Homo sapiens: one gene and its partner. The protein of the gene in region 2 purifies or fractionates together with the protein of the main gene of each other region. This does not show direct contact. Each region holds a gene or a part of one and is shown on either strand. Other genes may lie near its edges.

Region 1 (3,652 bases), on a different chromosome or scaffold from region 2:
ATATTTATGTATAAGCATATAAACATATAAAAATACATATTATATATTTATTTATATTATATATAATTATATATATATATATATTTTATGAAGACAGGGTCTTGCTCTATCGCCCAGGCTGGAGTGCAGTGGTGTGATCTTGGCTCACTGCAACCTCTGCCTCCTGGGTTCAAGTGATTCACCTGCCTCAGCCTCTTGAGTAGCTGGGATTACAGGCGTGCGCCACCATGCCCAGCTAATTTTTGTATTTTGTAGAGATGGGGTTTCACCATGTTGGCCAGGCTAGTCTCGAACTCTCAACCTCAGGTGATCTGCCCGCCTTGGCCTCCCAAAGGGCTGGGATTACAGGCATGAGCCACTGTGCTTGGCCTTGAAATGTATTTCAAAGAAATTGCTTTATCCAGCTGCTTAGGTGGCCAATTACTCCTGGGTAATTTGAATGTGGCTACTTTAAGAATCTAAATTTTTCTGTCGTATGTATTTGGAAATAAGATTTGAATATGCCAGGTAAAAAGTTCAATAAACACAAAGAAAATTATGTAAAATGAGTTAAAAACTATGTCTTAGGCAAATAGGAAGGCTTACTCTTGGAAAGTACAAAAAATATGTAATATATCCTATTTATAATTCTATAAACTTTATGTTGATAAAAGATTACGATTTAATTTAAGGCCTTTAATGAAACAGAAAAAGGCCAATATATGTGTATTTCAGGTTAGGAGACAAGTTTAGTCAGCATTTTCATGTTTGTGAAAATTTATAGCCTTAAATGTTCAGTTTTAAAATTCAATAATTTCTCAGAACAATTTATGAGTTTGCTAATTACTGCTGAACTCTAGCTTCTGGTTAACATTAGGCTCACTTCTACAATGGCATTAAAGTGGCTTAAAAGAAGATACATGATGCAGTTAGATAAAACAGAAATGTAAAATCGGAGATGGAAGGCAGAAGTAATTTTTGGATAGTAAATGCACTGATCTTAAGAGCTATTTAAATGTAACTAACTTAAACACCCAGGGCAAAAATAATATGCTGTTGTTTTAAATTACAGTGTAGAGAATAATACAAGCATTTAGTGAATGCTTATACAGCTGGGAAAATGTTTCAAGAAAAAGATGGGGAATTGACTTGGGTAGTAGTACAGTTCAGTACAGAGATGGGACACTCTTGCAAGAGTAACCCAAGGCACAGAGGTGACAAAAACGTGCTGTATGAAAGGGAGAGGGAGACTGGCCTCATCACAACAGATCATTTATGCTGGAGAACTACAATACATCTGGCATGTGGTATATGGTGCAACTCATCAATAGTCATAAATGCTGGCTATCTTGATCCTTTAAGTACAAAGAGGCCATAAAAGATGCTTGAACAGAAAAATAAAATTAAAATAATTTTTAGGTAAATTAAGTCAATTAGCAGTACACAACAGAGCAGTCTACAGTGTGTTTTGAGGAGAATGCCGGAAATAAAACTAGAGAGAGTGGGAGGAGTTAAAAATCTGTCACAGTAGTAATTGAAGATAACTTTTCTTATGAGTGGCTGCCTGCCTCTCCTCCACAATGCCCTACTACACTACTCACTGAGTATCTTGTCATATTAATACCTGGTAGTAGTCAACATTTGGCCGATGTGAACATGCTGGAAAAAATACAAGTCTTATACTTCTGGATATCATCTTTTGTCCACATTGTCTACCATAGTAGATTCCTAACATGTTTACTTCATGAGCAGTAAAGGGCTTGGTATGGTGGAGGCAGTGGGAATAAACAGAACGGAAGAACCCAAGATATATAAAATTATCAACACTTGTATCAATTTGGTATTAAGGTTCTTACCACTTTATTTTTATTTTTTTAAAATGGAGAATGGGTCTCGCTATTTTGCCCAGGTGGGTCTTGAACTCCTAGGCTCAAGCTAACCTCCCGCCTCTGCCTCCCTAAAAGCTGGGATTACAGGCATGAGTCACTGTGGCCAGCTCTTACCACTTTTTTTAGTACCTCAACTTTTGTTACTTTTCAAAGTAACATATACATTATGGCCTATATATCTGGTCTATTGCTGGATTATTTTTATGGCTGTGATCTAAGAATTACTTTTACATTTTTAATGGTTGAAAAGAAAAAAAGGATATTTCATGATACATAACTATTATATGAAATTCAAATTTCCTGTAAATAAAGTTCTACTGGAACACAATCATGTCCATTTGTTTATGTATTGCTAAGGGTGCTTTCATGCTATAATGATAGAGACGGATAGCTGTGACAGAGATCATATGGCCTGCAAAGTTGAAAATATTTGTTTGGCTTTTCACAGAAAACAATTTGCCAACCCCTGCCCTATATCATAACATATTTTTTATTTGGCAATACTTGCAAAATTTATAAACATGCTTTTTTTACGAAAGGTTACAAGGATCTCTGCATTTTCTACTAAACTATTATTCATGCTTTTCACCTGCTAATTTTACAATTCCAGCAATCCAGAAGACTTTGGTAGGTAGGCTGCAGTCTGTATTGGGAACTTCTACTCTCACATTTTCTGAGATATCACCCCAGCAGGTCCCCATAGGTGCCTGTCACATAAAAATCATTAAATTATTGTCTTATTAACATAAAGCCTAAAACATATCAATGAAAATTAAGCAGTACCATCAATAATAGGAATATTAAACTAAAAATGTCATTTTAATTCCGTTTGTTTCCTAGAATTCTATCTGGAAAAAGCCAGTTTCAGGGACAAACAAGATAAAGAGAAAATTCACATATATTAGACTAGATTCATGCTGACTTCAAAATCTGATACTGTCCTAATATGAGATTTAAGCAGCGATTTTTCTATGAGTGGAATTACAAACTCAATAGCAGATTTAATAGGATTAAACTGATTTAAGAAATTTTTAATATGTACTGAGTGAATACACTTCACCCTAATTTCTACTTTTAAAAGATCTGGCCTAAGAGCAGAAAGAAAAACAATTCCAATCAGCAGTGTGGTTTCCAACAACATGAATAAGAGAAATGAAAATTTTCAATTTAAATTAAATTCATAGATTAGAAATCTAGTCCACATAGATGGACGTGAGGGAAAAGCACTGGATAAAGTTATTAAGAAGGTGGAGTTGAAGAGTTTTGGAGATGAGTACCATGGTAAACTATTTAAATTATTATTTCAAAATTTCTCATGTAGAAATTACTATAAAGAGAAAACTTCCAATGTTAGAACCGGTAATCACTAGCCTCCCACAGCAAATGGTTAAGATGGGGACTCGGAAAATCAATTAAATGAGCATCATGAAGGGATTTTCTGAAATCTAACAGATGTTCCCAAAGTATTGTTTCCATTATATTTTAATCTTTAAAACTCAAGGCAATTCACAATTACTTGGAACTTATGCAATGGTAAATTAAATCAAATAAGCAAATTTAAGAATATAAATGCTGATAACACTAAACAGTTTGTGTTGCTCTGGACAGTCAGTTCCTCATTCAATTTAGAATGTTGATCATAAAGAAAAGGATTATGTGAGGTTATAAAAGACTTGATAGTATGAACAAATCAGGAAAAACCAAAATAGCCTCAAAGCTCAAAGATGAGCAAAGATATCTAGGAGTTACATGAACTAGCCAATTTGAACATTAGGCAAATGTCC
Region 2 (3,652 bases):
TCCTCCTGTATTCTTGTATTTTTTTTGAGACAGGGTCTTGCTCTGTTGCACAGGCTGGAGTGCAGTGGTGTGCTCAAGAGATTCTCCCACCTCAGTCTCCCAGGTAGCTGGAACTACAGGTACATGCCACTGCACCCCACTAATTTTTGTATTTTTTTTTTTTCAGATGGAGTCTCGCTCTGTCGCCCAGGCTGGAGTGTAGTGGCGCGATCTTGGCTCACTGCAACCTCTGCCTCCCAGGTTCAAGTGATTCTCCTGCCTCAGCCTCCCAAGAAGCTGGGACTACAAGCGCACGCCACCACACCCGGCTAATTTTTGTATTTTTTAGTAGAGACGTGGTTTCACCATATTGGCCAGGCTGGTGTCGAACTCCTGACTCATGATCTGCCTGCCTCACCCTCCCAAAGTGCTGGGATTACAGGCTTGAGCCACCGCGCCCAGCCCAATTTTTGTATTTTTTGTATAGATGAGGGTCTATGTTGCCTGGGCTGGTCTCGAACCCCTGGGTTCAAGCAATCCTCCTGCTTCGGGCTCCCAAAGTGTTGGGATTACGGGCGTGAGCTACCATGCCTGGCCTTCCTGTATTCTTTGTCTTAGCAAGTGGCACCACCATTAATGGTTGTTCAGGACAAAAACTATTTTTGCCCCCTCACTGTCCCTATGAGTGTCATTATATTACAGATGAATCTAGGCTTTTGTTTGAGAAATGATATACTTATCGGAGAGCTCAGTAATTAGAGAGGATGCCTATTATGTTGCTAATATTCAACATAGTATTCAAAAAAGGAAAAAGTAGCAAAAGATAGAAAAATTGGGGTTTTTTTGGAGACAGGGTCTTGCTTGGTTGCCCATGCTGGAGTGCAGTGGTGTGACACCGGCTCACTGCAATCTCCACCTCCCAACTCAAGCAATCTTCCCATCTCAGCTCTTAAATAAAGAACTTAAAATACTTGAACAAAGACTTATAATACATACTATTAAGATGCCAGTTACCCTCAAAATGAATCTGTAAGTTTTATGCACATATTATAGCACAAAAATTAAAGTTTGGCCAGGTGCGGTGGCCCACACCTGTAATCCCAGCACTTTGGGAGGCCGAGGCAGGTGGATCACTTGAGGTCAGGAGTTTGAGACCAGCCTGGCCAACAAGGTGAAACCCCATCTCTACTAAAAGTACAAAAAATTAGCCGGGCTTGGTGGTGTGTACCTGTAGTCCCAGCTACTTGGGAGGCTGAGGCAGGAGAATCACTTGAACCTGGGAGGCAGAAGTTGCAGTGAGCTGAGATCGTGCCACTACACTCCAGCCTAGGTGACACAGCAAGACTCTGTCTCAAAAAAAAGTTCTAACATAGTAAAAATCACCATAAGCAAAAAACAAATAGACAAACAAACAAAATAGCAAAACTTCAATCCAAATTTCTCAGTTCTCTGATACATAGAGAGCTCCTACAAATCAATATGTAAAAGGTCAACACAAACTTAGAAATGGACAAATGATATGAATCAGCATTCACAAGGAGGGGATAACTGAATGGCTAACGAGATGATCAGCATTATTAATAATACGAAAAACACTGTAAGATAATGAGATAATCAAATTGACTGGAATTATAAAGATAATACCAAGTGTTGAGAAACATGCAAAGAGACAGAATCTCTTATTTTACTGCAGTTCTGTGTATCAACTGGAGCAGCCCTTGTTAAGAGCAATCAGGCAGGACCACAATTTACTCGACCTTACTGTCTGCTCCTGGATGTATATATTCAAGTTAATACAGGAACTTATATACTAATCAATCTCCATTGTTACTACCATCTACTGACCTCCTGGTTTAGCTGTCACTCTCCAACACTACTCCTGCCTTAAATCTTGGCTGCTGGCCAGGTGCAGCGGCTCATGCCTGTAATCCCAGCACTTTAAGAGGCTTAGGCAGGCGGATTGCTTGGGCCCAGGAGTTTGAAATCAGCCTGGGCAACATGGTGAAACCCCATCTCTATAAAAAATACAAAGATAATAATCTAGCCGAGTGTGGTGGCGTGAGCCTGTAGTCCCAGCTACTCAGGAGGCTGAAGTGGGAGGATGGCTTGAGCGGGAAAAGGGAGGTTGCAGTGAGCCAAGCTTACGCTATTGCACTCCAGCTTGGGCAACAAAGCCAGACCTTGCTTCAAAAACAAAAACATGATCTTTGCTATTTATTGAACTCTTCTCCAGCGAGTTTGACTTCTACTCTACTGTGGACACTCCCTCAGGCATAACCTAAACCAACAACTGCAACCTCTCCGTAACCTCATTTATGCACCACATAAAAACGCACCACCTCGTGTCTTTCTGGCTAACTCCCTCAACCCCAACTATGATCCCACTGAGGTCACCAGTCCACTGAATTATGGTTTTGGCGCACTCGTTTGGCAGAGGTGGATTTAGTCAGGGTTGTGGTTTGGCCAACAAAGTGCTCCAAAGCCACAGATGATCCAGGGAACCTGCGTAATATCTGACCATGGGATTCAAGTTAGTTAAATAAGGGTGGACATATCAAGTGATTGAAACAGTGAAAAGGTGATAGGATCAATGGACTGGTGATCTCATTGCGACCCAAGGATAGCACCTTTGTATGTCTGTGTCTCTCTTTGGCACAGATCCCCCATGCTTTTTCAAGGATGTTGTTCCACAAATCTTCCCCTCTCTTTCCTGTGTCACTAATTTTTTGTCTTTGTTGGGTCATTCTCATCAGCATGCAAACATGCTGTTAATTCTCCCATTTTAGGGACCAGGTGCAGTGGCTCATGCTTGTAATCTCAGCCTGCTTTGGAAAGCTGAGGCAGGAGGATCACTTGAGCCGAGGAGTTCAAGGCTGCTCAAGGCTGCTCAAGGCTGCTCAAGACTGCAGTGAGCTGTGCTGGTGCCACTGCAGTCCAGCCTGGGCACCAGATAGAGACCCTGTCTCTAAAAAAAAAAAAAAGAAGAAAGAAAAAGAAAAAGATTATCCCATCTTATTTCCTGTTGAGGCATAACACATTGCCTCTACTTCCCCTCCTTCTACTCTTAAACCCCCTTCAGTCAGGTTTTTTGTTCTACCACTTACTAAAACCACTAACCAGGGACCTCTGCTTTGTTAAGTCCAATCATCACTTACATTCCACTCATCCAACCCCTCCCTCCTTGAAAGGCTTTTTCCACTTGGTTTCCAGGATACCACAGACGCCCTAGTTTTGATTCTCAATAGTCTTTTTTGCTAGTTATCTCTCTTCTCTCCAATCTCTTTACAATGGACTGCCCCCAGGGCTCATTCTTGTTCCTCCTCTATTCTTACTCCTTAAGTTCCACCCATATACCAAAAGACCCAAAATTTACATCTGCAGTCCCCACTTCTCTCCAGAACTCCAGGCTCATGTATCCAACTGCAGACTCAATGCTTCTACTTGGATGTCTAAGGATCTCCAGCTCAGCATATCCAGAACAGAATTCCTGATCTTCCTTCCTAAACCTGTCTCCCACTCAGTACAAGGCAACTCTATCCTTCCACTAGGTCAAAACACTTTGAAGGCTCATACTCAATTGTCTGTCTTATACGCCATATCCAATCCATCAGCATAGCCAGCTGGTTCTCCCTGCTACTACCCTGGCCCAATCTACCATCATCTCTTGTCTGGA

The links. The genes of interacting proteins can lie anywhere in the genome.
Region 1: the proteins of FOXR1 (region 2) and MBTD1 purify together in Homo sapiens (affinity purification with mass spectrometry; 4 studies listed by BioGRID and IntAct, with this or other methods). This does not show direct contact.

The regions. Positions count from the first base shown.
Region 1 is NC_000017.11:51,204,431-51,208,082, forward strand, and holds part of MBTD1 (MBT domain-containing protein 1), read right to left. Parts: intron 2,576-3,652; coding exon 2,458-2,575; intron 1-2,457. UniProt on the Homo sapiens protein: Chromatin reader component of the NuA4 histone acetyltransferase complex, a multiprotein complex involved in transcriptional activation of select genes principally by acetylation of nucleosomal histones H4 and H2A.
Region 2 is NC_000011.10:118,974,729-118,978,380, reverse strand, and holds part of FOXR1 (forkhead box protein R1), read right to left. Parts: intron 1-3,652. UniProt on the Homo sapiens protein: Transcription factor which acts as both an activator and a repressor.